Linked DNA regions of Homo sapiens: all the other regions are linked to region 1. Evidence: fine-mapped expression QTL. A gene starts in region 1. Each other region holds a variant in brackets. All regions are shown on one strand. Distances are between the middles of the regions.

Region 1 (5,151 bases):
TTGGAACGCTAAGCTTGTGGGAGTTATTTATATCCTACTGCTCAAGGTCATCGCAAAGGTCTGATTTTTCACACAAAAAAATTTGCAACCTCTGGCATAAATGGGTTAAGTAACTGCCTTAAATTATCTTTGCCTCATTTTTTTTCTTTACTAAATAATATATATAGTAGTAGAATTAACAGCATGATCTCTTAGAGGTCTTATGAGGATTAAATAATAAAATATATGTAGAATATTTTGAGCTATTATCCTCATTATTACAACCTACTACAGTTTTTGTTTTTTTAATTCATAGCATTTATCCAGTTGCCTGTAATTTTATGCCTTTTTCTTATTTATTTATACTTTGAGCTTATTAGTAAAAACAAAACAAAACAAAACAAAACCTTTCTGCTTATATCTTTAACCAAAAAAAAAAAATTATTTAACAAAACCGAGACTCAGTGATTCAATGCAGCAGACATTTTCAAGGGTGGTTGCCCAGCCCCAACCATTTGCTGAAACAAAGAGGATCCTGATTCCACAGCTAAATCATTCCTGCCAGACCCCCCCTGGCCATGAATGATTTGTCCACTCAGGGGATGATAACCAATCATAGTTGAGTCGATCAGATTTTTTCTCCCAGCACCTACACTGTTTTTGGCAGTACTCTGAGAGGGTTCTCAAACCTGTTATCTCTTTCCTGCTTTTCCAGAAGCTGGATACCATGCAATGGCTCCCCTAGCATCCCTCTGATAAATTTACCTTTTGTCTCTAAGCTGGCCAGAGTTAGTTTCCATTACTTAGGCAGTTGAGAGGGGTCACAGCTGAGTTCTGGAACACACCTCTATCTCTTTGTGTTAGAGCTCCTTAATCCACATCTATTGAGAGACTACTGTTTGCAAGGCATGACCAGATATGTGCTGTGAGGATCAGCAAGGTTTTGACAGGAAAAGAGGGGGTGTGGCATTAAGAGAATAGAGAACAGCAGAAAAACACAGGGCAGATATAGGGAACTGAAAGCAATACAGTTTTACTGCAGAATAAGGCATATGAAGGCACATGGTTGATCCTCAATAAATGTTTCATTAATTGATATTAAATTAGATGTAAAACTAGATAGACAAGTTGAGGACAAATAATACATGGCTTTGAATGCCAACTAAGGGATTCAGAGTTTACTTGCTTCAGAATTGGGACCACTGAAGATTTCTGAGCAGAAGAGCCCTATAATATGAATTGTGCTTTCTGAACACTAATATCTCACGCAGTCCTCATGAGTGATCAGCTTTTTAATGGGCTGAAATTTGTGTTTTATTTACGGCCAGATGCGGTGGCTCATGCCTGTAATCCCAACACTTTGGGAGGCTGAAGCCAGGAGTTTTAGACCAGCCTGGCCAACATGGAGAATCCCTGTCTTTTATTAAAAACACAAGAATTAGCCGGTCATGGTGTCACATTCCTGTAATCCTAGCTACTTGGGAGGCTGGGGTGCGAGAACTTCTTGAACCTGGGAAGCAGAGGTTGCAGTGAGTGAGCCGAGATAGCACCACTGCACTCCGGCCTGGGTGACAGAGCAAGACTCTGTCTCAAAGGGAAAAAAAAAAAAGTTATTTATGTTTCTAATGAGGGAAATTTAGCAGCATATTTTACAGAAAATAGGTTTCATTTCAATGACAAATGATACTTCTTTATGGGTCTCATTAGAGAACTGAAAATACTTGCAAATACAGTATATTTGATAATGTCATTTTCTGCTCTAGATCTAATCAAAGTTGTCAGCAAAATTAATTTAAGGTCCACAATTCTCTACTCATGTTAACCTGAGGGAGAGGTTATTGTGCTATTAGGACTACGTTATAACTGAGAAACTGTTAAATGCCTTCTCATACTCCTCTAATGGAGACAACCCAAGTTTCAGAGAAACAGTTTATAAAGCACTCTATAACATAGTGAAGAGCATTATGAAAATATCTGGCATATGCAATCTTGTTAGCATGAAATGGGTAATATTAAACACAGTCCCTAATATCACTGTGGCACCCCAATTTAGAAGAGCTATACTGTACCAACTTTGCTTTCCACCCACAGAAAGGACCAAGTATGAAGTTATATAAACACCATTCTCCCTTAATTGAGGAACTGGTAATCGAAATACAAACTGATCTGCTTATTCACTATTTACATGGCCATTCAAAGTAATAAAATTTTAAAAGTAAATGTTATGTTGAAAAAAGTCAAGTGAAAAGCAAGATGTTATCCAAACAAATTATCTGTCTTTAAACAAAGTAAGTTTTCCTTTCCTTTCAAATAAGAAAAAAAGAGAACCAAAAAGTTCACCAATAGAAGTGTAATTCACATGAATCGCAGTGATGGTATACCATGGAATAGGAAAAAATAAGTTACAAGTCATAGTTCAAATTTTTTTCATACCCCTGCCTGTACTGTAACTTGTGAACTCTAGAACTTTAACAGACTTTCTGAAAGCTGAAAAGAATCCAGTAACTCGTACAGAGAACCTCATGAACAGTTCCTGAGGTACCACAAGCACCTGTTTCCAGCGTGTTCCAGCCATGGCTTGTAAGTGGACCTGCAAATGCTGCAATGTCCAGGGTACCAAAATAGGGGAAAGGCGCCCAGGCACAGCTCAAGGGAGCTAGCTTACCCCAAGGCTGTGTTTGACAGGGATTTGGGAACTGGAGAGGAAGGAGGAGGAGGCAGAGTACAGCCTCTGTCCTACGGCCCCACACCCACCGGCAGACATCCATCCTCCCGCCTGCGCCCCGCCGCGAGGGGGTACTCACAGCTCTAGTCTCATACAGAACCAGCTTCTGGACCGAGCTGATGATGGGGGCGGCGGCCGTGGGCATGGCGGCGGCAAATGGGGGCCCCACAACAGGGCACGAGCCTCCGGACCGCCCCAGGAGACTCGGCGAGAAAACCCCTCAGGCCCTGGACATCAAGTCCAGCCAGGAACAACACCCATTAGGCACTAAACCTATAGATGATCAGGTGTTTCCGGATCCCTGCGCCCCGCCTCCAGGCAAGCCCCGCCCCTCACGTCGGGAGCGGGGCTGGAGGACGTATCATAGAGAGGTCGGGTAGAGGCTCCCGGGACCTGCGTGCTGCCGAGAGAGGAAGCGAAGGGCACCATCTTTGGTAAGGATTGGAGGAAAACATGGGCGGAGAAAAAGTCGACGGATTAATTGAGTCTATTTATCTCCTCCCTCTCTTTGGAAAAAAGCGGAAGGTTTGGGATTGGGTAGCTTCTTTTGAAAAGGGTTCTCCGAGTTGCAGGATAGATCCTTGTGTTTTCCCTGCCTGCTGCGGCCCATTTTCCTGGAAGCCGGCCCTCTGACGGTCCTTCACTGAGTGTCAGTTTTCCCCTCACCTCTAATCCATGTTGTACCTACGCTGTGTGGCCCAAGAAATTGTTTTAAAATCACCTAAAGCTGGAAAGTGTGGCTTTGCCACACGTTTGTGCGTGAGGCTAGCCACTTGAAGTTGTCGACAGAGACTAGCGCAGTGTGGCGGAGCCGCGCTTGAAATGAGGTTTCTTCATTTCATGTGTGCGACATAAATGGGCATGCGCGTACCCTCTCTTCCATAGTTGTGAAAATGAGTGTATTATAATTATAAATGCCAAATTAGGTACAAAAGTGACTATTTCGAATTGGAAAAGAAATGACAAAGAACTACAGCCCCGCCTCTCGAGGCCCCGCCCCACCAAGCAGCAGGTGCGTGGCGGCCAGAGGTCTCCCCGGCAACCGCCCGACAGCCCCGCGGAGTCCCTGGAGGCAGTTGCTTCCCTGAGGAGGGTCCGGCTGCGGCCAGGTAAGGAGCCTTCCGGCGGCCCGCTGGGTCGTGGTCCGCCCTGGAGGCATCTTGGTATCTGTTGCACGGAACCCCGCCTCCTGCGGGGACCCCCAGACCAGCTTCTTTTCTTGCAAAACGGTCTCTTTGTAAATCCACTTTTTAAAACCACGTCTCCTTTCAACGACTGAAGTATTTATTCCACAAATATTTACTGAACACCTACTGCAAGAGTATAAGATGTAGGGGAGAGGCAGCTATCCTATCTTAGGCGGCAATTCTAGGTTTCCCAGGAAACCTCTAAACCTCAGAAACCTCTGCTAGAGGGCTTCTCAACTGCTAAGTGTAAGGAAACTTTAAAAAAAAATTATAGAATTATAGCATACCCAGATAACATTCATGTAATACCAAAGATCATATTGTAAATTAAAATTTGAGAAATTACAAAAATTGTAAAGAAATACTTAAGTCTATGTTATTTTGCGCTTCTTTCCCCCTGTAGTTTGGTACTCCTTTTATTAAGAACTAGAAGGATGGCCGTGTCCGTTCTGGCATTTTGGACTTGGATCTTTTAACTGGGAAAAATAGTTAGCTGTGTTCTGTTTCATAATGAAACCAACTCTTCTGAATATTAGTTAAATGTTTGCACAGTGTTTTTATCTAGGATAGCAACTCTTAAAATACCTGAAGGATTCTAGTTTTCAATTATTATAGTTTAGCACTTCCATTTTAACTTTATCTTAGTTTATTTCACCCGGAATCAGATCCTAAGACAAAACTTTGAAGGCAGGTTGTTTATATGAGACGTAATCCCAGGAAACAGCAGCAGGGAGGGGAAGAAAACTAATAAAGGAAATATTACCAGAGAAATTTCTCTGTGGGCTGAATTCACTAGGGAATACTGGGAGGCATGTCTCAGTTATCCCCTCTTGAGGGGCAAGGAAGCTGGAGTATTTATTCGCCAACTTCCATCAGTTATTGGATGAAGCCTGATAGGGCAGAACATTGATGCCCTAGAACTTCCAGTCTACCCTGTGTTCAGGGAGAGTAGGTTCTGGCAGCCAGAGAAAGCCCTTAGGCAAAAAGTCGCACATGCTAACATTTTGGAAGTTGGGCTGGTCGTGCATAGAAAAGGTGTATGTCAAGTGGATATGGGGGAGGCACTAATAGCAGCTGCTACATTCCACCCTTTGCAGCACTCGTATCCATTCTTCCTCCACATCAAGTTCACACCATGCCACCCTAATTCTTTAAGGTAGTGGCTAGTCTCAATTTTTAAAAGAAAAGGACTTACAAAAAAAAAGATTAATGGGACAAGCTGCAGAATCCACTACTGCAATTAATCTGAGGTCTCTAATT
Region 2 (5,153 bases), 210 kb before region 1:
TGAATGGAACTGAAGTCGTTGCTGACTACTGGTATGCCTTCCAGCTGTGAAATTGCTGCAGAGGCCACGGCAGCTTAACTGCATTGATGGCCACTGGGGTTATTGCACCCTGCACTCCATGTTCTTGCAGTGCCTCTGTGTTTGTGCTGACAGGCCAGTCCAACCAGGAGCTGTAACTATGCACCACACCACTCCACTTTCTAAGTTGTTCGGGTTTTCCATCTCTAACACTCTCTCCTTAGATAACTGGGACGATGGGTGCCATGAAATAACAAATTTTCTTTTGAAATTCTTTCTTTCTTGTTACCTAGCAAAGGGCAAACCCACCCACACTTGTGGGTTTAGGCTGTCAGAAGCCTGGGAATGATTCATATCCACTGTAAAATGAAGTGTTTTTCATGATATGAAATACTATTGTTCAACAAGAAACCTCTAGATTGTTTATCCCCTTTTGCTTTATTGTGTTTTTTTAATACAAAAGTTATCCATGCTTGTTATTATAAATCCTACTGGAGAGAAGCTAATGTTTGATCAGTTGCATCCCCACCTCTAGCCCTACCTCATCCCCTTGCAGTAAAGTGTGTCCCAGCTGTGTGCACCCTTCTATGCCTTTCTTCAACACACATTCCAACATGCACACACAGGTGCACAAAGCTCAAATTTTGACCTCTTCTAGGAGCCTCTCCAACCTTTCCAGTTTGAGATCAGGTTTTCAACACTTCCATCATCTTAGGCATTTCCATCGCGTTCAGCATTCCTAGAATAGCCTTTACTCAATCTGCTGGGGAAACAATGAAACATGGTGGAAGAGTGACAGTCCCTGGGGAAAGCGCTCTCTGCTTCCTGAAAGGCCAGTGGTCAAATAAATCTGAGTCACCGAACTCCTCTCTGAATCTGAACTTGTTGAAGGTGTGAGGATTGGCACATGAGATACCTGTGTAGACCCTGGTGCAAAGAGCAGATTGTAGAGGCTTCTAACCAAGCAGGAGAAGCCGGATAAAGGATGGTTGTTGCAGTTTGATAGCTGATTCTGGAATATTCGGTGACAGTGAGTGGATAATTCCTGACTCTTACTTCTCCTCCTGGGCCTCCTGCTGAGGACAGTGTTAGGGCTCATTTGCACTTCCACTAGAGGCGAGCCCTTGCTGGGAGAAGAGGTGAGAGCAGTCGATTTTGCCACTCATTAGCAACTCTGGACAGACAGTGGTGGGAAGATTGAACCTATTGGCAAAATGAGAGTTTGCTTCTCTGGGGGCACAGTTACCCATTCTAGTCCTTTCACCATCAGCGTATCACCCAGAGTTGATTTTCTGCTGGTCTCACAGAGCAATGAGCAAGACAATATTTTTCAAAGGATTAGTTGCTTTATATAATAACTCAGTGAATAGTCAATGTTGTGACCTTCCAGTGGTGAGACTGAAGAAGGAAAAATGTCTCCTGGAAAACAGATGCCACAACCACCTTCGTGGTCTTACTGTTCTGGCCTAAAGGTCAAAGATTAAGTTTGTGAAGGACAAAATGTGTGTGTGTGTGTGTGCGCGCAATCTGGAATGCTGAAGTAAGTTTGCCAATGGATGCAAAACTGGTTAATATTCTATAAGACAACGCATGTTTGTTGGCATATTTCTACTGGGCAGAAAACTATCATATCTCTACTGGACACCGGCATTTACGTTGCTATGGATAAGAATAATTTCCATTACTGTTTTCTTCAACTTCTATAGTGTAAAATTGCTGGGTCATTAGAGAGACAGAGGGTCTACTAGACAATGCCCAGCACATCATTGAAAGGACACACAATGATGTTAATCTAAAGACAAAAAGATCTATAAACAAATCTTCAACTCCAATTTAGTAAAGGTGTTGTTGGTAGAGGTATGAATGTAGCAATTCTGGAATTATGTTGTGCTTTATTAGTGCAGCACTAAGCAAAAAAGTAAATAATTTGACTGTGGGCCAGGAGTGGCAGAGGGATTCAGGATTCTCACCATGAAAGAAAGAAGATACAAGCATAAACTAGGAAAAAGCAAAGAAGAACCATGTGGTATTGAATTGGGATTAGTGGTTACTACTGGCTCTGTCCATTGAAATGGCAGTGACATCCCAGTAGCAATCAGCAGAGATCTTGGTTTCTAAATACTACTGCTGCCAAAAGAAGCCAGGACTTTTTGGAGAAATGGCTGATTCCAGGGTGGGGCAGGGCAAGTATAAGAACATTTGGTTGTTCTTAAAAGTAAGAAAGTGCTCATAAAATGATGGGAGGATGTTGCAAGAATATAAAAAGCAACTTGAAGGGCTTCCCACTGGCCAAATCTGTAATAATTTGATTATCAAAACAAATAAGAATAGTGATGAATTCTAACCCTTGGAAAAATAATATTTCATTGATTCATATTATACTAAATAAATAAATGAGAAAGAGAGGAAGGCTCTTCTTTAAAATAGAAAGCCAACTAATAAAAGTAGAATAGATAATGGAGTTAGATAATCAACATTTTGCAACATTGTAGTAGTAATTGATTCACACAGGAATTATTAATGGATGCTAAGACAGTGGAAGTCTCAAAGTATTTCTTTAGAGATGACTTATTAATTTCTTTCTTTTTTTTTTTTGAGACAGAGTCTTGCTCT[G/C]TTGCCCAAGCTGGAGTGCAGTAGTGCAGTCTCTGCTCACTTCAATCTGCACCTCCTGAGTTCAAGCGCTCTTCCTGCCTCAGTCCCAAGTAGCTGGGATTACAGGCATGTGCCACCACGCCTGGCTAATTTTTGCATTTTTAGTAGAGATGGGGTTTCACCATGTTAGCCGGGCTGGTCTTGAACTCCTCACCTCAGGTGATCCACCCACCTCAGTCTCCCAAAGTGCTGGGATTACAGATGTGAGCCACCATGCCCAGCCATGACTTATTAATTTCAAAGAGAAAAATAGTAACTTCATATTAGAATAACTTGGCTGACACTACTCTAACTAATTGATCAACATTAACATCACTAACGATGATGTGATATGCTGAGGACAAAACATGACTTATGTTATAAACCGCATAACCTGCATATAACCATCTAGAAACACCAGACACATTTAAATTGTGGAAATTCTACCAAATGCTTGGCTTGTGTTCTTTAAGATTGTCAATGTTATGAAAGACAAAGACAAAATAATTCAGTAAATTTTCCAGATTAAATGAGGTAAGAGAATCAGGACAACTAAGTGTAATGCAAAATCCTGAATTAGATCTTCAATTTGGGGAAAAGTTGCCATAAAGGGCATTATTGGGGCAATTGGTGAAAGCTGACTATAAACTGTACCTTATCTTAAATAATAATATTGCATTAATGTTAAAGTTCCTAAAATTGATCATTGTACTATGGTTATGAAGAGAATGTCCTTGTTCTAAGGAGATCTATGCTGAAACATTTAAGGATAAAGGGGCATAATATATGCAATTTTCATTCATATGGCTCAGTAATACTAATTATAATAATTATTAGATATAGATAGAGAAAGCTGTGTCAAAATGTTAATTAGTAAATCTAAGTCAAGAGTATATGGGAGATTACTATATACCTTTTGCAACTTTTCTGTAAGTTTAAAATATTTTTCAAAATAAAAAAGGATTTTTTTTAAGTATTGTATTCTGCTTTTCTAATCTCTCTATTGGAGAAATGAGGATTAGATACTTCAATCAGAATTGAAGATGTGGTCTGGGCACAGTAATGCCTGTAATCCCAGCATGTTGAGAGGCTGAGGTGGGAAGATGGCTTAAGCCCAGGTGTTCAAGACCAGCCTGGGCAACATGGTGAAACACTGTCTCTACAAAAAATACAAAAATTAGCCAGGCACGGTCCACAACTGCAACCCCGGCTACTTGTGAAGCTAAGATGGGAGGATTGATTGAGCCCAGGAGATTGAGAGATTGAGTCTGCAGTGAGCCCTGATTATGCCACTGCACTCCAGCCTGGGTGATAGAGCAAAACCCTGTCAAAAAAAAAAAAAAAAAAAGAATTGAAGTTGTGTGGAATCCCCAGAGAGGTCGGGTTGTGTGGGCAATATGCACCTTGCTAGGAAAGAGGGTCATCAGGGCACTAAAAATCCTTTTCTCAAGGTAATGTCCTGGGATGCCCAGTCCCCCAGCCGTGCTGGGTTGAGTTATCTAGGTGAACTGCAGGATTTTGGAGAAAGAAAAGGTATTTTCCATGTAATTACTGTAACAGAAATGCGGGAGTCACCCTCGGTGCCAATCTCTCATTCAACTCGTCACCAAATCTTATGTATTGATTCCACCTTTTAGCTATAATCCAAATGTGTCCCCTCCCCTCTATGTCCTCTGCCAAGGTCCTCACTTCCTTGCCCACATTTCTGTGTCACCTCATCACCTGTCACCTGGTCTTCAGTGGCATCCCTCTGACCTATTCTTCCCACCCAGCCAGGTGCACAGTGAGTGAAGCTTGGTGCCTTGGTAGGGTGGCAGAGAGTGCCACCATGCCTGCTCCTACCTCTGCTGGAAATATCTCCCACCACCTCCTACCATTTCCTGCTGCCCTCTCTCCAACCCTCAATCCACACAGCCTTTGCTCCAACAATTTTGCACTATTTTTGAAGCCACCTTTGCAAAAATTATATCAGTGAAAAAATTATGACAGTGATCTGAGCTAACCCACCCCCATCTTGCCTTTCCCGGAAGGCCCCAGATGGGAAAGAACAATGAACAACTGTTCTAAGAGACGGCTGATCACAAACTACCCAAGGGTGTGACTACCTCAGTGGGCACAATGAATGGCTTCCTTCCTCAGGCACAAGAACCCTGCATGGAATCCCCTCCAGCACAACCCTAGAAAACTTCCCTCCAGCCCCACCTCTTTGCAGACAGCCCCTTTTCTGCTGTGCTGCCTGTTGTAACCTTTGAATGTATTTTCATACTTTCTCTAATAAATCTGCCTTTCTTTGCCTAGACTGCCACCCCCTCTTCCTGGTTCATGTTGGGAACAATTTGGAAAATAAAAGAATTAAGAAATTAAAGAAGTCACAGATAAAGGGAAAAATATGAATGGCTGAGTGAGGCTAAGCTGGAGGGTGTGGTTCAGGTCTGTCAGCCAGCAAGCTGGGGACAGCTCTGGGCAGAGCAAGCTACCTCCACCTGCCCAACTCACCCTGCAAG
Region 3 (5,000 bases), 130 kb before region 1:
GTGCTACAATTAAATGTGGGTCTTTTTAATGCTCCCAGCAAACAGCCAAGATAGCTTACTGTACTTTGCTTTTATCCACAACAATGACACATCCTGAGATGACTGGAGACTACATTCAATTGCATTAAAATAACACAGAACTAGGGGTGACCAGGAGAGCAGGTTGTCTGCTCATGAGGCCCTTCAAAGGATCAGCAATAAGGAATTTCAGCTCCTCAGAGTAGGCTGGGTCTTTAAAGACTTTGATAGGAAGAGAGTCAGTGACATTTTGGTTATAGAGAGAGCATGAGGACAGCAAAATTCTTACTGTACGTGTTTCTCAAACACTGATCTGTCTTCAACCTGTCAGGGAGCCATGTCAATGACAGACCAACAAGAAAGACACTGCAGTCTGGCAAAGGTTGAGGATTTTATCGCCAAGCCTAGGCAACATCAACAGCACAAAAAAATTATTTATAGATCAAAGTATACAATGACATTAATAGATATTAAAGAAATGTATGCATTTGTTATGTCTAAGGCTGCTAAACTCTATCTTTTGTAGACTCATTTGTCATCAGATTCACTAGATTAAAAAATAATGTGTATGCATGTGTGTAGATGAGATATGGTGTATATATATATACACACACACTATATATATATAGTTATGCTTTATACCTACTTATATATGTATATGTATTCTTTAAAAACAATGCTGAAGAAAGCGATATATATATATATATATATATATATATATATATATATATACATACACACACACACATATATATACACTTCAACCATCCCCACCAAGTAATGTGCTTTAAGTGAAGCCATGTGAACTTTTATAATGGTCATTCTATTGTGCAGATATTAGAACAAAAATATAGTTAATGAGCATATGGGGTTTGGAGCCAATAAATCTAGATAACATACTGTAACCCCTATTATTTCCTAGGTAGAGCTGGAACATCTTGTCCTTAAAATGTGACTGTTTTTTTACACTGTTATATAGCAAAGATCAATGAAATACACAATAGAGATTTAGAGGCTGCTACAAGGTTGGTAAAGTTTTCAGTTGAAATACCATTATGTACACATTAATTAAATATAAAAACTAACAATATTTACCCAATATTTATCATAGAAAAACTACTGTGTTTCAGATTTACCAGTGCTTTTCACTTTTTTATTGCAAAATAAAATCGATACAGAAAATCACACAAAACAAACACATAATTATTATAAAGTGAACATCACCCAGGTAAACAAACAGAAATTCTGACAACCAACCCAAAAGCCCCTTCCAGGTGCCCCAACCCCATCACAATCCCCTACCCTGACTCATAAGTAACCTTATCCTGACTTCTATAGTAATCACTTGTTTGCACTTTTAAAAAAAGACACTGTCGTTCAAATGTGCACCCCTAGATTCTATAGTCCTGCTCATTTCAAAAGTGTGATATGCTTTTTAATCTACAGATGCTCTCATCTTTCTTTTTCTTTCTTTTTTTAAGACACAGGGTCTTCCTGTATCTCCTAGGCTGGAATACAATGGAGCGATCATGGCTCACTGCAACCTCGAACTCCTGGGCTCAGGCGATCCTCCTGCCTTGCCCTCCCAAAGTGCTGGGATTACAGGCTCGAGCCACTGAACCCGGCCTCTCACTTTTCTTTTTCTTACAATTTATCTGTTGAAGAATCTGGGTTGTAGAGTTTCCCTCAGTTTGGATTTAGCTGCTTGCATAGTCAAGATGCAGTTCAAAGTGTTCCTCTGCCCTTTATATGCGCTGTGGGTCAGCAGTTGGACCCAGAGGGTGGTGAGATGCTGTTTCGATTGCTTTGGTAACACTATGGCTGGTGGTGTATTGCTTCATCAGGAGGGTCACAGTCTCTGGTTGCTTATCTTTTTTATGTTAACAGTCACTGAGGCCAATGCCTAGATCCAGTAACCCATTGGGACTTGTCAAATTATCACTTGACACTTCATCTTCAGTCCTTTTTAATGTCTTTCTTCATTTCTTTTTAAAGCTTTGTATTTTAGTTCATTTTGAAATAGTATGTTTCTGTTTTAACCTCTTTTATTAACTTGTCTTTCTGGCATGATTTCATTGTCTGTAGGAATGTTATTTTGCTCTGTTCTTTATAATTCTATGATGAGATTGGCCCTTGATACTTTTCTGTTGCTTATTGTGCAAAATTAGTTTTGCAGAGCTGTAAGAAGATGTTGCTCAGGAAAGATTTACTTAACTTCACAGAACTCTCTTTGGTTGTTTCAGTGAAGTGTTGAAAACTGCCACAGCTTGCTCTCTGAGGTTTCCTCTCTGCTCCCCTTCCTCAATGTTGTCTGGGCTTTCTCCTTCCTTCATCTCCATTGTCCTGCTCAATTTTAATGCCACTATCAGCAATTTCTCCTGCCATGTCCAGGTAGGGAGCTTTGGCCGTTTGGGTTCAAGACTGTATGTGGCCCAGACGGCCTCAGCCCCTTTCAGAACTCACCAAAAATCCCTTGCACTCCCCTGGTATTGAATTGGGTGAACCCCTTCTGTTTCAGCTTCAATGATTTCTGGCGACTACCTGTGAGCTATTTTGGGGTTCTCCTATTCTCAGGCCTCTCAGATGCCCCACTGTTTCCTCCTGCTTCTTCCTCTTGCACACACACTGCTATCATGCAGGTCTTTATGGCTGTGGGGGGTTTACTTCCACATCCTCTTTAGATTTGGGGGTGAGTGAGGATACTGTATCGCACAGTTTTGAGGTAAGTGTTGTCTGTAGGTGCCTGGTTTTGCTAACCAGTTGTTCTGTTTTTTTGTGTGAGGATTCAGAGAGATTTTAAAATGATGCTGCTGCTGCTGCTGCCTTCTTCCAGAACCGACCAGGCTCTATTTTTAAAAGTGTATTTTTCACCCATCCCTCAAACTGAGCCCTACATTTGCCATACTGTCAGCTGCAGGGCTCCATTTTCCTTGTTCTGGAGATCGGCACTGCTACACCACCCCTCCTTACCCAGGGCTGCTCTCAGAGAAGCTCTTTCCCAGCTCAACTCCCACGTCTACTCTTGCCGGAC[C/G]TGTTCCCTTCAGAGACAACGCATACTGCAGATGTTCAGATGGACTGGCTATCTGAGTGATGGGAGACTTGGGGGGTGCGGGTGAGGTGGTAACACTCTTAATCTCATGGTTCATCTGCATGTGGCTAATCAGGTATTGCCTACATAGCAGTAGAGGTACAAGAAGAGTTAGAGAAATGTTTTAAATGACTACTTATCAGATATACTTTTATTGCAGCTAATAGGAGATGGTATACCATCTATTCTCATGTGAGCTGTGGTCTCAGAAGCATTTGACAGTCGCTAGATTGAAGAAGCAGGTTTACTATTAACAAGCTGCTGGAATGACCTCCCCAGTCCACTCAGGGCTGGTTTTTTTCTCTGCCTGGAGGACAGAGTTGGACCAGTACCTGCCTGGGAGCCCTGCCTGATGCATAGGTAGGGCATGCCCCTCTCCTCTGTTCCCATAGCCTTGTGCACACCTATGTCTGTGCCCCCATCTGTCTCCCTCATGTGAGTGGGAGCAACTTTTGCTGAGGCTGTACAGACTTTTTGCTCTTTTTCCTTGGCATATGGTAGGGACTCAATGGCTTTTTAAGAAAGATTTAGTAGAAATCAATGAAGTAGGGGATACTAAGAATTCCTACCTCACACAGCTGTTGAGTGGAGTAAATGAGTTTAAGTTTATATGTATAGCATAGTGCCTGAGTGCTCAGTAAAGGTGAACTATTGTTAACAATTACATGGCCATGGTGAGTCATGCCTATAATCCCAGCACTTTAAGAGGCTGAGGCAGGCGGATCACCTGAGGTCAGGAGTTCGAGATCAGCCTGGCCAATATGGTGAAACCCCGTTTCTACTAAAAATACACAAAATAGCAGCTCGTGGTGGCGGGCACCTGTAATCCCAGCTACTTCAGAGGCTGAGGCAGGAGAATTGTGTGAACCTGGGAGGCGGAGGTTGCAGTGAGCCGAGATCAGGCCATTGCATTCCAGTCTGGACAACAGAGTAAGACTCTGTCTCAAAACAAAAACAAAAACAAAATTACAGATACATAATTCCTATCTGCAATCCTGAAATCCCAAAAGCTATAATAACCAAAAGTTACTTTCTGGCAAAATGTGACCCAACTGAAACTGATTTGGGCCTTGGGCTTCATGGACAAAGGAGCCCTGGATGGCTACCCAAGGACCTCACTCTACTATCTGAGCAAGGTGCCTTTACCATTGTTGCCTAGTGGGATGAGGTCACTACTAAGGACAAATAGCAGTTGTATGTTTCCCATACTCCTCCTTTCTGAATGAGAGTTTTAATTTTCCTTTGCCACCACTGTATATCAGGAGCAGAGGCAGTCTTTATTTATAGGTCACTAGGTGATAAAAAGCTCTATCTGGACCTAATGAAGAGAGCTACACATACCCAGAGATCCTGGACTTTGAATGGGATGCAGAAATTTACAGGGAATGGAGTGGGTCCTACTTACAGCAAGAAGAGTATACACGGATAACTGGGAAGCTAAAGGGCAGACAGTGACACATGACATAGATGAGGCTCCTCAGCATCCACTGCATTCCCCGTCTAGTGTGCAGCAGCGGAAAAGCAAAAACTAATATCCCAGGATCCCTTGCAATTCAGGTTCAGAATGCAATTTAGGTTCTACCTGCGACTTGTACTCAAGTGCTTTGATTTGAAACTGGGTCATATGGAAAGCAGCAGGATGCAGGGTATGTGTTTTGCAGATTAGTGGCACAGGTGATGTGCTCTTGAGTTGGGCACTGTGGTAATGGCTTTTTGAATACAGTATTCCCCCTTATCCTTCAGGGATATGTTCCAAGACCCCCAATGGACGCTGGAAACTGCAGATAGCACCAACCCTCATATATCCTGTTTTCCTGTACATACATACCTATGACATGGTAATTTATAAATTAGGCACAGTAAGAGATTAACAGCCTACCTAATAATATAATAG
Region 4 (5,000 bases), 91 kb before region 1:
CTATCTATTAAAGCAGCAACATAATACTGAACAGCCATTCATTTGTTTCTAATAAAATACTATGTGCAAAGGATTTAATGCTTCAAGTTCATTAAGGTATAATGCCAAAATATGTTAGTGTAAAAACTAAAACACAAACAGTTACCTACCTTCATCATAGGGCAATGGTAAATGCTTTATCACCTCTGGTGTCCACCAGTAAGTATAACTATAAAATAAAAATTAAAAAAAAAGATGAACCAAATGTAAATGTTGGTTTTCTAAAATTTACTGGATAAAATAATTTATATGGTCTATAGTAACATGTTCCTACTTCAAAGTTAATATTTTTCTTTTTAAAACATGTTTGCAAAGCTTTTGACACAGTAGGTCTTCAACATGGTAATTCCCTTCCCAACTGCTTTCTTCCTTCAACTATGTTGCAGATCTACAAAAATGCCATGAATACACCTGAGAGTCAAGATGCTCTGATATTATTTACTTTTAGCTAAAAAGGATTAGAAGGTAATAAGCTGACTCTATGAACTGCTGTTAACTTCTCCCAGGGACTGTGCCTACAGTGACTTACTCTGCCACCAGGTGAGTAGTGGGACCTTGACCCAAGTCCTACAACCAGGATTCCCTTGCGTGTAGTTATCTGATAGTTAGAATCTACTCTGCTGTATAGTACACACCTGTGTGTATAGTTAAAACAGTTAAGCAAAATCATTAAGGAACGAATTAGACAGTCCTAACGAACAAGTTCCCTTAGAAAGCAGTATAGACCGTTATTCTTTAACTGTAAATATGTGCTACTTGATTACAGAAGCTAGTCAGAGTAAGAGTAAAGAATGTCACCTGTCTGGATTTCTGCTAGAAGGCTCGTCTGCTATAAGCAAAGAATCTGAAAGAATCCTAAGTGGCCTTCTCTCTGAACACCTAATTTAATTCTCAATCAAATTCTAATGAAATGAATATTTAGAGGAAAAGGATATATGTCAAAGTTCATGAGAGCTAGGAAGGAGAAGAATTTTTTAAAAATCAGATTTCTAAAGATTAAAAAAAGAGCCTATAGCCAAAAATTGCTAAAAAGAGATTTTAATATAAATGAAAGGCTTTCTAAAAATATAAAGCTGAAATTACAATCTTGAATAATCCTGATTATGAAGCAACAGGAAAGTATCCAAATGAAACTGGCAACACAGGGAACTCTCCTAGGGATGGCAAGCAGAATACACAACCACTAATGATGAAAAAAGGAATATGAAGCCTAATGAATTGTGTGGGGCAAATCACTGTTCTAACAGGAAAGGTTCCTAAAGTTTTGTTTTAGACTGAAGTTATGCTTTACAGCAGTGCTATTCAAAATTCAATGTGCATGTAAATCACTTTGGGATCTTGTTAAAAGGCAGATGATTCAGTAGGTGGGGCCTGAGATTCTGCCTCTATGACAAACTCCTGAGCAAAACCAAAGGGGCAGATCCTCCAACCCCTTTTCAATAACAAGGCTTTGAATATGAGAAGAACAGAGCAAGGATAAGGCTGCTGCTTGTGAAGAATTCATTCAGTTATTCCACATTTATTAAGCACCTGCTATGTGTCAGACACTGCTCTATGTGTTGAAAGTGCCAAGCTGAAAGCAATGACAGAGAAAGTAGAGCTACTTAATTCCAGTACTGTTTCTATCCTCCCTAGCCATAACAAGTTTCGCACCTGAAAGAAAAAACACAAGAGGGAACTGTGTACAACCCAGAAGACAGAAGGAGGCGCTAGAGCGTCTCTACAAGAGGCTAGTGTCCCGGTGTAGCTGAGATCTATAATCTTTAAGGAACAGTGAAACATGGAGCTGATACTGGAAATGGGCCAATGCAGTCTTTAATTTTTACATTTAGCAGAATTTATTTATTTATTTACTTTTTTCAACTTTCATTAAGTTCAGGGGTACATGTGCGGAACGTGCAGGTTTGTTACATAGGTAAATGTGTGCCATAGTGGTTTGCTGCACAGATCATCCCATCACCTAGGTATTAAGCCCAGCATCCATTAGCTATTCATACTGATGCTCTCCCTTCCACCCTCACCACTGCAGGCCCTGGTGTGTGTTGTTCTCTCCCATCATGTGTCCATGTGTTCTCATCATTCAGCTCCCACTTTTAAGTGAGAACACGCAGTGTTTAGTTTTCTGTTCCTGCATTAGTTTGCTGAGGATAACAGTAGTCTTGATGCTCAGCAGTGAGAGGGTGACAGATTCCAAAAACCAGACATCAACAA[G/A]TGATGTAAGTGATGTTGATCCCAGCAACATAACAGAATCAAATATGAGATCGAGATGTGTTGTAAGTGACCTAAAAAGATAGCCAATGCATTCTCTGAATTCACATCTATTCACAAAAACAAGCCACACCAAGCTAATATCATTTCCTTTCCTAATAGGAAAATCAGACTGTCAGATCAGGGGAATGAAAAAGACATGGACTAATTGTTTAAGAGGGGTGTATGCATGTGTGTATGCATGCATCTGAGTAAATCTAATTCTGTGATGATCTAACACTGGCAGACGAGTAAAGTAGAGAAGTTATCAGTATATGAGAAATTCCCTAAAGAATGTTGCTTACAATCAGCTTGCTTAGGAAGAAGAAGTAGACATTACAAAAAATGTGTTTTAACTCAGAATTCTTGTGGTGAGCAAAAATGAAAAGATAATCATGTATTCATGATTTAAGACCAGGCCATAAACTTTTTAAAAATATTACTAAATTGTATTTCCCTTACAATATGTAGCAATTTAACAACACTTTTAAAAGATTCCAAGTCTTTTGGGTGAGTCTCAGAAGCAAAGAAATATCTGCCTTGGGGAAGATAAGCTAAAATGGATGGAGGATAAGAGCATCTAAGACGACTAAGCCCAAGATAGGGGAATCTTTACCACCTCTACTACCAGGTACATTTATCCAGAGGAAGAACAATGCACTGGGTCAGAAACCTGCTTTGGGACCAGGGATCAGAAAACAGGAGATTGCAAGTTAGTGTCACTCCCTTCTTTGCATACAAAAGAGCTAGTAAGTCAGATTCTCTTTTCTTTTTCAGTTCCTAGTATTATTAAGAGTTCTCGGTTCCATAGGAAGGTTAGGGAAAATTTTTACACTGTCTAATTTTCCTAGCTAACTTGGGAGCCCCCTGAAACATTCATGAATGTCAGCAGAGCAATCAATATTTGTGAACAAGACAGAGAAATATGGGCAGGGCAATAGTGTAGTTAAGTGAAATTACAGCTGTTTAAATGATTACAATCAAAGGCACTAAACAATGTTATGTGGAAGGAGTTGTCTGTGGGTAGAAATCAATGGGTTCTGCCATTTACCCTACTGTACTCAACATTTTTCATCAAGTACTTGAATTAGGATCAAGATGGTCAACTGATTAAATCTGAAGAAACTATAAAGCTAGAAGTATTCATTAAAGGTACACATTTCAATACTTTTTTTGGAAGTAGGCAAAGCATATACGAACATGACAAGAATGGTACAGATGTGGCAGAGTGGCAGCGGCACATGTTAAAAAGACTTAGGAGTTCTAACAGACAGGAAGCTTGGAGAATGCACACTGTGATGGCAATGCTGAGGATGGCTGGTGTGACCTTATGCTTATCAATGAAAACACAGCATCCAGGACAAGGGGAGTGATGGTCCCAGTGGTCTCAGAACAGCTAGCACAAATCAGACCAAATGCTGACCATTATTGGACCCAGATCTGGGGGCCACAGTTTAAGAAGAACATTGACCTCAACTGGAATATACACAGAGGAGAGTGTTGTTCCGAATGCTGGAGGGCCTTGAAACCACAGCATATGAGGAACAGCTGAAGAAACTGGGGCTATTTAACCAGTAGAAGAAGAGATTTTGAAAGTGTATGAACTCAACTTCAAATATTTAAAAGATTATCAAGTGGATGAGGAAATCTTGTTTTTAAGGTCTTTAACTAGGATTAATAGGTAAGATTACAGAGAAGCAGATCTCAGCATGACATGAGGAAGAATTGTGTAAGTGAACTGTTCCAAAACAACTGCCTCTTCAACAGTTGACAAACAAGAACTTGTCAAGCATAGGCCAGATTACCTCTCTCTCTCCCTAGGGAAACAGAAAGGGAACTCACATATCAGACAGGGGGCAGGCCAAGAAATCTCCCAACTCTAGGAGTCAATGAAATAATTAATGCTTAATACCTAAAAACATCTTGGTGACATTCTAAACACCAGTTCATTAGATGGAATCTTAGATGATTGTATGCCATATTAATCAAATTCAGAACAAAGCTTCAATTAGTGGTTTTAGGCAGATCAGTCAATGTGAGATTTTGTGTCATCGAAGTACTTATCTCAAGAGGACCTTGTTCCAATGACTCTAGGTAGAGTTAAGTTTATTCCCTCTTCCCTTATTGTGCAAGAAAAGTATTATTTCATGGCATAGATATGCCACGCCATTATCTATACCATTCCTGTATCATTGATAAACACAGTATAAGATACAGCATGCCACAAATTTCAAAACACTCATGAATAAATAATAAAGTCTTTATTAATATTACATTAATAAGTCACATTATCTAAGTTTCCAGACTTTATGGGCATCCCGTATGATCTTTAATAAATGTTAAAAACTAGGGAATGTTATCTCCTTAAAGAATAGTAACAGGGCAGGTGCAGTGGCTCACACCTGTAATCCCGGCAATTTGGGAGCCAAAATGGGCAGACTGCTTGAGCCCAGGAGTTGGAGGCCAGCCTGGGCAACATGACAAAACCCAGTCTCTACCAAAAATACAAAAATTAGCTGGGTGTGGTGGTGTCCACCTGTGGTCCTAGCTACTTGGAAGGCTAAGGTGAAAAGATGGCTTGAGCCCTGGGAGGCAGAGGCTGCAGTGAGCCGAGATCACGCCACTGCACTCCAGCCTAGGTGACAGAGCCAGACTCTGACTCAAAAACAAAGACAGTAACAATACTAACACCTATTGTATTTGCTAGGTGCTAA
Region 5 (5,153 bases), 150 kb before region 1:
ATGTATGTATGTATGTATTTCTGTTTCTCTGGAGAATACTGACTAATACAATAATGCTTACCATTATGAAGCTTAAGTGCCCTTTTCTTGCCTGTCTTTTTCACCAGGCTGTAAACTCTTTGAAAAAATGAGCTGTCTTGCTTGCCAGTGTGTTTTCAATCTCTAGCAAAGAGCCTAGTAATAGTAGATATTCAGGTCTAATCCTGTAATTGTCGTACTTTGCCATGTATCAGGGCTGCCTTTTCTTTTTGGTAGCTGGCAGACACATGTGGGGAGACCCAGTCCCTGCCTAACTCTCCAGCCTCTGTAGGCTTGCATCTGGCCTAGCACATAGAAAATACACACACACACACACACACACACACACACACACACACACACACACGAAGTCTATTGAATGAATTAGCTGAAAGCATACTTAAGCCAAGGTGTAAATGGATGCATTCATAATAGTTAAGCAGCCGTCTTCTCACAGACTTGGGGGGCATCAGTTGGAGGAGAATGGGGACCTCTTGAGATGGGAAGAGTGACATAGAAGCCTGGTGGTTGTGTGGTGGAGGATGGGAAGGGTCAGAGCTCAGAGGATGGGGTTGTGGGACCAGCAAGTCAAAGCAAGAGGGAGAGAAGAAATCCAGACAGAAAGCTTTGGGCTCTTAAAGCGCTGGCAGTGTTCATCTCTGGAAGTGTCGAGATTTGTAGCTCACTCCTAAGGCTGAAGAGGGCTCTAGGTTTGTCTAATTCTCAGGCAAGTTGCTTGTTAGTGATGCTTCCACCAGCCAAATATGGGCACCGGGGCTCCGGATTCCTTTTGTTTTCTTTGCTTTGTGGTCTCTGCGATAGAGGGTCAGCCCAGCAATGCCCACCACATAACAGCTGGACAGAGCTCCCCATTCTAAGTGTGCTCCTGAAAATACTACTTTTTTTTTTTTTTGGAGATGGAGTCTTGCTCTGTCACCAGGCTGGAATGCAGTGGTGCAATCTCAGCTCACTGCAACCTCTGACTCCCTGGTTCAAGTGATTCTCCTGCCTCAGCCTCCCAAGTAGCTGGGATTACAGGCGCATGCCACCATGTCTAGCTAATTTTTGTATTTTTAGTAGAGATGGGGTTTCACCATGTTGGTCAGGCTGGTCTCGAACTCCTAACCTCGTGAGCTACCCACCTTGGCCTCCCAAAGTACTGAGATTACAGGTGTGAGCCACCGTGCCTAGCCCAATGCTACTTTTTAAAAGAGGAAGTCCATCCTACTGTATATTCCTCCACAGGAAATATTTGCCCCATTATAGGTTTGTTTATATTTTTATTTTCAATAGACAAATAATAATTATATATATTTATGGGATACAATGTAATGATTTCATAAATGTTTACAACATACTATTTCATAAACATATTTGTCAAAAAAAAGAAGAGCTAAAATTGCTGGCTGCAGGAGTTCCAACCAGAGATCTTTTTCATGTTCAAGAATGCACACCTGTGTTTTTCAAATAGGTAGGTACTTTTTTCAAAGTTAGTTAAAAAGTAACCTACCTATTTGAAATAATTTATAATATTTAAGTTATTTAATATTTATAAATTATTTTTAAAATGAAAATAAATATTTATTAAATTATTGAATTAATATTAATATTTAGTAATTCCAAAATAGTATGCATAATTATATGTAAATTCACTGCTTCATGGGTTTCATTAAAAACTCATTACCAATCACCTCTCATCAGCCTCCCTTCCCCCATGTCTTTTCACCCCAGCAGTGGACAAAAGGGGGCAGAATTTGCTTCTTCCCCATCTAGACTTGCCTTTACCAGGTGGTCCACCTGCAAGGCACTGATTCCAGATAACAAGTCCTGGAGGTGACTAGACCCCATGCCTCGGACCCCTTTGCTGTTCCTGATTCATATAGAACCCTCCCTGGCTACCCAGACTTGGCTGGAGACTCTCACCTCTGTATTTAAAGAAGGCCCTTCACAGGCCAGACGCAGTGGCTCACGCCTGTAATCTCAGCACTTTGGGAGGCCAAGGCAGGCAGATCACTTGAGGTCAGGAGTTTGAGACCAGCCTGGCCAACATAGTGAAACCCCATCTCTACTAAAAATACAAAAAAATTAGCTGGGCGTGGTGGCACGCACCTGTAATCCCAGCTACTGAGGTGGCTGAAGAGGGAGAATCTCTAGAACCCGGGAGGCAAAGGTAGTAGTAAGCTGAGATCGTGCCACTGCACTCCAGCCTGGGGGACAGAGCAAGATCCTATCTCAAAAAACAAAAACAACAACAAAAAACTGAGTTGACATGTATTAAATGGGATAGTCACAGATCCAGAGCCATGTACAACCCCGATTCTACTCCATGTAGGGGCCTTGAGGAGT[G/A]TATCTGGCAGACAGGGCTGCTCTGGCCCCCATAACAATGAGCAGCCATCAGACAGTGCCAGCCACCATTTCCCTGCTCCTTCTAGTGCAGAGCTGGGCCTGAAACTGAGTTTTGAGGTTTGCAGCTCAGTGTGCCTGGGACCCAGTAAGTACTCAATAAATGTTTGTTGTCCAGCTCAATCAGATTGCAGTTGCTAAAAGGAGAGCCTAACATATGTAATTTTTAAATGACCTTAGATTTTCACATGGGGTTTTTGTGGGCACTAGATCAGCTTATCAGCAACTGTACCAAGAGGATTTTCAAAAACAGAAATGAAATTATCTCTAAGAGTTAGGTGAAGCATACCCTGGGGTGGCACTCCTGCTCTCCTCACTGGTGTATGTGACTCAGCTTAGCTCCACATTGTAAGAATCATCACTGATCCTATTGGGTCACTCCAATTATTCAGTTACTGGGTTGCTCTGCCCCTGCTCCCAAACAAAGAAGTCCTTTTTTTTTTCTTAAATTCACGTGCACATGGCATCCCCAGGAGTTGCAATCCTGACATGTTTGCTGAGGTGAGGGGAGCATGCCTTCCATTAACCTCTTCCTAACTTCTCAGCAGAGCATCTTTTGGTGGAGAGGGCCAAGTGGTGGGCTGTGTCCTAGAGTCTGGAAAACATCTTGTCTTATCCTATCTGCATGGTTTCAGCTGAGGGAAAGTCCAGGGTCATTTTGCTCTGGGCTGCCGAGTCCAGCCACCAGGATGATGATCTCCTGTGGTCTGGAAGCTCCTGCATCAGGGGCACAGGGTCTGGAGGCTCTGGTCAAAGATTCAGGGCACCATGGGCAGGGCTGGTAGCATCCACTGTGCAGCCAGGTTATGGAGAGGCAGGGATAGTGCTGACCCACTGGCCAGTGAGAACAGCAACAGACTGTCAGGCTTCTAATCTCAGGCATTTGCCCTTAGTTCTATGTTACTCCTTGGCTTCAATGGCATAACCAGCCCTGTCACTGTGCCAGCCTTTGGAGATGTGCGTGTGTAACCCAAATACAACTGGGCCACCTCTAGAACCAGTCTCTGTATGGTGTCACATTAAAAAACCCAGCCATCCAGACCCCTCCCTCCAAACACAGCTCAGCCATGCTGAGCTGTAAACCTCAAAACTCAATTTCAGGCCCAGCTCTGCACTAGAAGGAGCAGGGAAATGGTGGCTGGCACTGTCTGACGGCTGCTCATTGCTATGGGGGCCAGAGCAGCCCTGTCTGCCAGATATACTCCTCAAGGCCCCTACATGGAGCAGAATCGGGGCTGTACATGGCCCTGGATCTGTGGCTATCCCATTTAATACATGTCAGCTCAGTTAGTTAAATTAATATAGTCAAATAAATATATTTATGTAAACAAACACAAATCCATACTCAAAAGCTAGTCAAATCCCATTTCGGACTTGGTTCTTGACCATCCTTTTCAGACAGCTCTCACTTTCATCTCACATCTCCCTCTCTCTTTACCACCACCCCCCACGGGACTCCTCTCGCCAGGATGCTCTCCCTGGCTTCTTCCCCACCAGGCCTCACTGGTCATGCACTCCATGCCCCCAACATGTGATCTTCCCATTGCATGCATCTTTCTTTCTCTAATCATTTTCCTAGTGAGAATCTGCCACCCTGCAATTATGGTAAATAAAAATTCTCCACTTTGCTATATGCAGATGCATCAAGCCACCCAACCATGTCCTCCTCCCAAAGTCAGGGTGTCTCCCATTTAGGCTGGCCTTCTCAGCCCATAAGATTGTTGGAAATCCCAGCCTTAGCAGCTTTGTGCCCTTCTTTTAGCAAATATTTTCCAGTCCAGCAAAGGGGTTGGGCCTCCTTGCACAGTTGAAAGAACCATTCTAGGCCCTGCTTCCTCGGAGATATGTCCCAGGAGTGAGGTGCATTGCAATACATGGGTACTGCTCATCACCAGGAGTTTACTGACACCTAGGGCCATGTATGAGGGTCACGGGGGCCTCTCTGAAAAGTGCCCCTCAGCCATCTTGCTTGTTAGTTCTGTGGTCAAAACTCTTCTTGACATCAGTAGCCTTCCTCGGCCTCTCACCACCTCCCCACTATGCTTCTTCTTGTCTTTGGCTCTAAACCAGAGTAGAGCTAGGTGCTGAGATATGGAAGACTGTCTAATTTTTGTAGACTTCTCAGACTTTCAGCAAAGTACACCCCAGCTGGAGAATCTCAAATGGCCTTTAGTTTTTAGGAATACTAGCATATAAAAGTGCTTGCTATTATGGGCCAGGAATAATTCTAAACTCCTTACATAAAATGTCTCATTTAATCTTCATAAAATCCAAATGGGATTCATACTATTCTAAAAGTCATATCCCAGGCCATTTAATAGAAATAGAAAATGCGGCCGACAGAGGTTGAATATTGCTTGAAGTCCCTTGTTCACCAAGTGCTGGACCAGGGACTTGAACCCACGTTCTCTCTCAATCCCTGCACTTTAACCAATTATTAGACAGGGGTCTGAGTTGACACTGACAGTTAGGGATGCAAAATGTCATCATGGCCCCACTGCTAGAGGGAGGGCTCACAGGGGCCAGGTAATAAATGGAGTCCAGGCCACAGTCCAGCACACCATGGGCCCCTTGGGCCTGTGTGGTCATTTTCTCCAGACTTGAGTGTATAGTTGGAACTGATACACCGCAGTTAAGAGTAACTTCCACATTAGATCCTTGGACTGCAGTTCAAGACCTCTCAGAGTGGGGAAGGTCAACTAGAAACTTTTGAAACTGCTCCCCTTTCCTAG
Region 6 (5,000 bases), 69 kb before region 1:
ATATCCTTTCACCATAATAAATTATAGCCAGAATACAATAGGCGGAGTCCTTTCAGTTCTCCTAGTGAATCACTGAAATCTGGGACTAGTCTTGGGGGACCCCTGTCATGGGTACCCTAAAATTCAAATAAACAAGTGCAAACAATGCAAACTATAACAAAGGGATTACTTCCAAAGACATATACACTAGTAGTTAGTTCTTTTTTATTGTCTTATGATTGTAGTTAACTACATTAACTGAAAATAAAATGCCATAAATACATAGTATTGGTTTCTTAAAAGATAAAGCATAAATCCTTGATCTGAAGAAGCTCCCAAAATAGTAATAAAAGATTTGTGAGCGAATAACTATAATACAATACTATTTTTATAAAAATGTTAGTATGTAATCTATAAGAAAAAAATGTCTGTTTCTATTCAATACTGAAAAATAGTTCACTGTTGAAAATTTTACTTACAGAAATATTTTATGTAACATTTGTTCTATGAAGCAAGAGATGCAGATCCCATGGCTTACATCTCAAGGTATGTAGGTAACCACCAAAGGAATTCCCATGCCCCAGTGAACATTCAGCACTCAGTCATGTGAGCAGTGTGCCTCCCCCCAGGACTAAATTCATCCAATTTCCAAGTAGTACAAACTGCTGTATTTAGAATACCCATAAGAGCAAAAATCATCATTTATTATAAGTTTTAAAATACCATACATACTTTTCATCTGGCCGCAAAATGCTACAGTAAGAATCAGGGCGGTTTACAAAGAAACCTGTTTTCTTCACCACACTTTCTGCAATCACATTTAGTCGATCAAGAACATTACACAGCTTGCTGAGGAGAGAAGGAAGAATGAGAAAAGTGAGAAGCCAAGTTTTAATATATATTTATCCTTATATCTAAAGCCAGTAAAGTCTATAGCAATGATACTTAAAGATGTAATTTTTAAAATCTCTTGGCTGGTACTTGATAGAAACATGTAACAATGTCTAGAATATAATGTGTACTCAGTAACCAGCAACATTTGATGTGAAAGAGACACAAAAGACCTGCAACTTAATATCAAATATTGGTGATCCTTAATCTTGGCATATAACATCCCTGCCTGAGCTTTCTCCAAAGCCTTTCACTCCTCAAGAGTTGTCAAGTCAATATACATTCATAAAACGGCTGTGAAAAGAGCACCACGCACAGTGCAGGTGGCAGAGCAGAAAAAACTGCAAAATAATATGAATGGCAGCTGGGTGCAGTGGCTCACGCCTGTAATCCCAGCACTTTGGGAGGCCAATGCGGGCGGATCACTTAAGGTCAGGAGTTCGAGACCAGACTGGCCAACATGGTGAAACCCCATCTCCACTAAAAATATAAAAAATTAGCCGGGCGTGGTGGAGGGTGCCTGTAGTCCCAGCTACTTGGATGGCTAAGGCAGGAGAATGGCGTGAACCCGGGAGGTGGAGTTTGCAGTGAGCCGAGATTGCGCCACTGCACTCCAGCCTGGGCAACAGAGTGAGGCTCCATCTCAAAAAACAAAAACAGAAACAAAAACAACAACAACAACAACAAAAAATTAGCCAGGCACGGTGGTGCATGACTGCAGTCCCAGCTACTCAGGAGGCTGAGACAGGAGAATCGCTTGAACCCGGGCGGCAGAGTCTGCAATAAGCTGAGATCGTACCACTGCACTCAAGCCTGGGCAACAGAGCAAGACTATGTTTGAAAAATGATAATTAAAAAAATAATATGAATGGCAATAACTTGTAAACAAACTTATACTCTGAGAAAGTGTGTGTGTATCTAACTGTATAAAATGACTCAGAAAAAAGTACAATAAGTACAAAACGATATAGTAACATCTTAAAAAATAAGACCTTAAGTAAACCTACAGCTTGTATGATTCTGTAGTAAGTGAACAAAAAGACAATGCAAGATTTAACAAAAGTAAGTTCCTTAGAAGAGATGAGTTTTGAATCAGATCTTGAAAGACAAAAGAGAGGTGGGAAAGCATCCCAGGGAGGGTGAAGAAGAGGAATGGAGGCTTAGGATGGGACTTTGGCTGCCACATTTGTGGCAGAGCATGAAAATTCAGTTTTCTGGAAGAGAACAGCCCTTGGGATAAATAAAAAGTGGTCACATTCTGAAGCCAACCAGATGACGAGCCTTTGACATTACACTAAGGAGTTTGGATCTACTATATACAGTCAGGAATTATCACAGGTTCATCCACGAGTGACATCTGAGAAAGTGTTTAAATAGTGAGACAGAATGATATAGAAAAAAGCAAAACTAATGCCTTTAAGGAACAGTTGTAGAGATGTTCTGAAATGACTAAATATTTCAAACAATTTGCAAATGGTATATATGATAGGCAAAAAGAAAAAAAAATGTTTGGTTAGTTTCTTGATGCACTCAAAACAGCCCCTCAACAGGTTCATGAAGGAAATTAACAGGGTAACATTTACTTTACCACAGAGGTCAGCTTCCTGTTATTTCTCATCACAAGAAAAGGAAACGATCATAGCCAGACAGATGAGTATCATTCACCTTTTGGTATACTTGGCCATGTCCCAGGGAATATAAACAATAGTGTGCTCAGGAGGCAAAAATTGGTTGAGATAGGTCACAGCAGCAACAAGTTCTTCACTCAGAATTCTTTCATGCTTTCTTTTCTCTCGTTCCTTTATCAAAAATTAAACATT[T/C]TCAGTGTTCTAATTTCCTTAAATCAGAGGAACAGGCTCAACATGTTTACTTTTAAGCTAAGCTAAGACAAAAAAATCCAAGTCTTAAATATACTAAAATGAAACCTAGCTACAATAATCAGAAATAATAAAAACACAAAGAAATAAATGCTCCATTGTATTAAAGTGAACAGCTAATGAACTTTGAAGATTCTAGGAGATCAGGTTTCTTCCTGGTACTCTCCCTGCACCCTGAGAAACCCAGCTTACCCAACGTGGGCCATGGCCCACACACTCCACACCTGACTCTGACAGAGGAGATCCCTCCCAAGGACCAGAAGAAGGGAGCCCCCAACTTTAACCAGCTGGAGGCCAGAAAGAAATCAACTAGTCTGGATGAACAATTCCCAAACTAGCACAGCAGAAAGCAGCTTCTCAGCCTTCACAGGACTTCATAAATTAGACTTGCAAATACTCTGTGAGATAACCAAAACAGGCATTTCTTTTTCTTTTTACACTGTGGTTGAATGAATTGAGGTGGAGAGGCATTCATGGAACTAAACCTTGCCTTCTGCCTCCTTGCCTGGGGCATCTCTTTAGTTAGACACTGCACTGCCTCTCATTCAAGAGAAGCTAGTACTTTACTGTACAGTTCTGTGGTTGGAATGGTGACTCTGCCACTCACTAGCCATGTGACCTTGGGCAATGTTCTCAATTTCCCTAGGCCTCCATTTTTTCATCTATAAAATAGGGTAAAAACAGTATCTTCCTTACAACATCAATGTGAGACTTAAATGAGACAGAGCATGGTGAGTTTTTTTTCTTTTTTTTTCTTAATACTTTAAGTTATGGGATACATGTGCAGAACGTGCAAGTTTGTTACATAGGTATACACATGCCATGGTGGTTTCCTGCATCCATCAGCCCAATATCTACATTAGGTAGTTCCATCACTCTCAACGACATGAACTCATCCTTTTTTATGGCTGCATAGTATTCCATGGTATATATGTACCACATTTTCTTTATCCAGTCCATCATTGATGGGCCGTTGGGTTGGTTTCAAGTCTTTGCTATTGTGAATAGTGCTGCAATAAACATGTGTGCATGTGTCTTTATAGTAGCATGATTTATAATCCTTTGAGTATATACCCAGTAATGGGATTGCTGGGTCAAATGGCATTTCTGGTTCTAGATCCTTGAGGAATCACCACACTGTCTTCCACAATGGTTGAACTAATTTACACTCCCAACAGTGTAAAAGCGTTCCTACTTCTCCAAGTCCTCTCCAGCATCTGTTGTTTCCTGACTTAAATAATCGCCATTCTAACTGGCGTGAGATGGTATCTCATTGTGGTTTTGATTTGCATTTTTCTAATGACCAGTGATGATGAGCCTTTTTTCATATGTTTGTTGGCCACATATAAATGTGTCCTTTTGAGAAGTGTCTGTTCATATCCTTCGCCTACTTTTTGATGGGGTATTTTCTTGTAAGTTTGTTTAAGTTCCTTGTAGATTCTGGATAGTAGCCCTTTGTGAGATGGAGAGATTGCAACAATTTTCTCCCATTCTGTAGGCTGCCTGTTCACTCTGATGATAGTTTCTTTTACTGTGCAGAAGCTCTTTAGTTTAATCAGATCCTATTTGTCAATTTTGGCTTTTGTTGCCATTGCTTTTGGTGTTTTAGTCATGAAGTCTTTGCCTATGCCTATGTCCTGAATAGTATTGCCTAGGTTTTCTTCTAGGGCTTTTTTGGTTTTAGGTCTTACATTTAAGTGTTTAATCCATCTGGAGTTAATTTTTATATAAGGTGCAAGGAAAGGATCCAGTTTCTGTTTTCTGCATATGGCTAGCCAGTTTTCCCAGCACCATTTATTAAATAAGGAATCCTCTCCCCATTACTTGCTTTTGTCAAGTTTGTCAAAGATCAGATGGTTGTAGATGTGTGGTGTCATTTCTGAGGCCTCTGTTCTGTTCCATTGGTCTATGTATGTGTTTTGGTACCAGTACCATGCTGTTTTGGTTACTGTAGCCTTGTAGTATAGTCTGAAGTCAGGTAGCATGATGCCTACAGCTTTGTTCTTTTTGCTTAGGATTGTCTTGGCTATACGGGCTCTTTTTTGGTTCCATATGAAATTTAAAGTTTTTTCTAATTCTGTGAAGAAAGTCAATGGTAGCTTGATGGGGATAGCACTGAATCTATAAATTACTTTGGGCAGTATGGCCATTTTCACAATATTGATTCTTCCTATCAATGAGCATGGAATGTTTTTCCATCTGTTTGTGCCCTCTCTTATTTCACTGGGCAGTGGTTTGTAGTTCTCCTTGAAG

Which allele goes with the higher level. Alleles are on the strand shown, and positions count from the first base shown. SD is a standard deviation of normalised expression in the study named. Not every link is listed here.
For the expression in prefrontal cortex of the gene that starts at base 2,989 in region 1, A is the low allele of the variant in region 5 and G is the other (small effect, 0.16 SD a copy in CommonMind).

The links. PIP is the estimated chance that this variant, and not a neighbour inherited with it, causes the effect. A credible set is the group of variants that fine-mapping cannot tell apart.
Region 2: its variant is the best candidate, but not a certain one, in a credible set for the expression of FIG4 in blood mononuclear cells (TOPMed, PIP 0.84).
Region 3: its variant is the best candidate, but not a certain one, in a credible set for the expression of FIG4 in esophagus muscle (GTEx, PIP 0.58).
Region 4: its variant is the best candidate, but not a certain one, in a credible set for the expression of FIG4 in whole blood (TOPMed, PIP 0.52).
Region 5: its variant is the best candidate, but not a certain one, in a credible set for the expression of FIG4 in prefrontal cortex (CommonMind, PIP 0.63).
Region 6: its variant is the best candidate, but not a certain one, in a credible set for the expression of FIG4 in whole blood (TOPMed, PIP 0.84).

Annotation. Positions count from the first base shown.
Region 1 is chr6:109,689,134-109,694,284 of GRCh38, reverse strand. FIG4 (FIG4 phosphoinositide 5-phosphatase) reads right to left here and starts at 2,989. Exons shown (of 23, transcript NM_014845.6): 1 at 2,784-2,989. The coding sequence starts at 2,849. It overlaps AK9 (adenylate kinase 9), which reads left to right and starts at 3,083. Exons shown (of 41, transcript NM_001145128.3): 1 at 3,083-3,138. RefSeq lists an enhancer at 3,036-3,505.
Region 2 is chr6:109,897,342-109,902,494 of GRCh38, reverse strand. No RefSeq gene overlaps it. Among named protein-coding and RNA genes, the nearest start is that of GPR6, 78 kb to the left of the region's middle. The variant G/C (reference allele first, on the strand shown) is at 2,632.
Region 3 is chr6:109,818,538-109,823,537 of GRCh38, reverse strand. The region is part of intron 22 of FIG4 (FIG4 phosphoinositide 5-phosphatase); the gene reads right to left. Among named protein-coding and RNA genes, the nearest start is that of FIG4, 130 kb to the right of the region's middle. The variant C/G (reference allele first, on the strand shown) is at 3,050.
Region 4 is chr6:109,780,178-109,785,177 of GRCh38, reverse strand. It overlaps FIG4 (FIG4 phosphoinositide 5-phosphatase), which reads right to left. Exons shown (of 23, transcript NM_014845.6): 17 at 150-208. Among named protein-coding and RNA genes, the nearest start is that of FIG4, 91 kb to the right of the region's middle. The variant G/A (reference allele first, on the strand shown) is at 2,251.
Region 5 is chr6:109,836,682-109,841,834 of GRCh38, reverse strand. No RefSeq gene overlaps it. Among named protein-coding and RNA genes, the nearest start is that of GPR6, 140 kb to the left of the region's middle. The variant G/A (reference allele first, on the strand shown) is at 2,365.
Region 6 is chr6:109,757,919-109,762,918 of GRCh38, reverse strand. FIG4 (FIG4 phosphoinositide 5-phosphatase) reads right to left here. Exons shown (of 23, transcript NM_014845.6): 11 at 2,536-2,669; 12 at 712-828. Among named protein-coding and RNA genes, the nearest start is that of FIG4, 69 kb to the right of the region's middle. The variant T/C (reference allele first, on the strand shown) is at 2,691.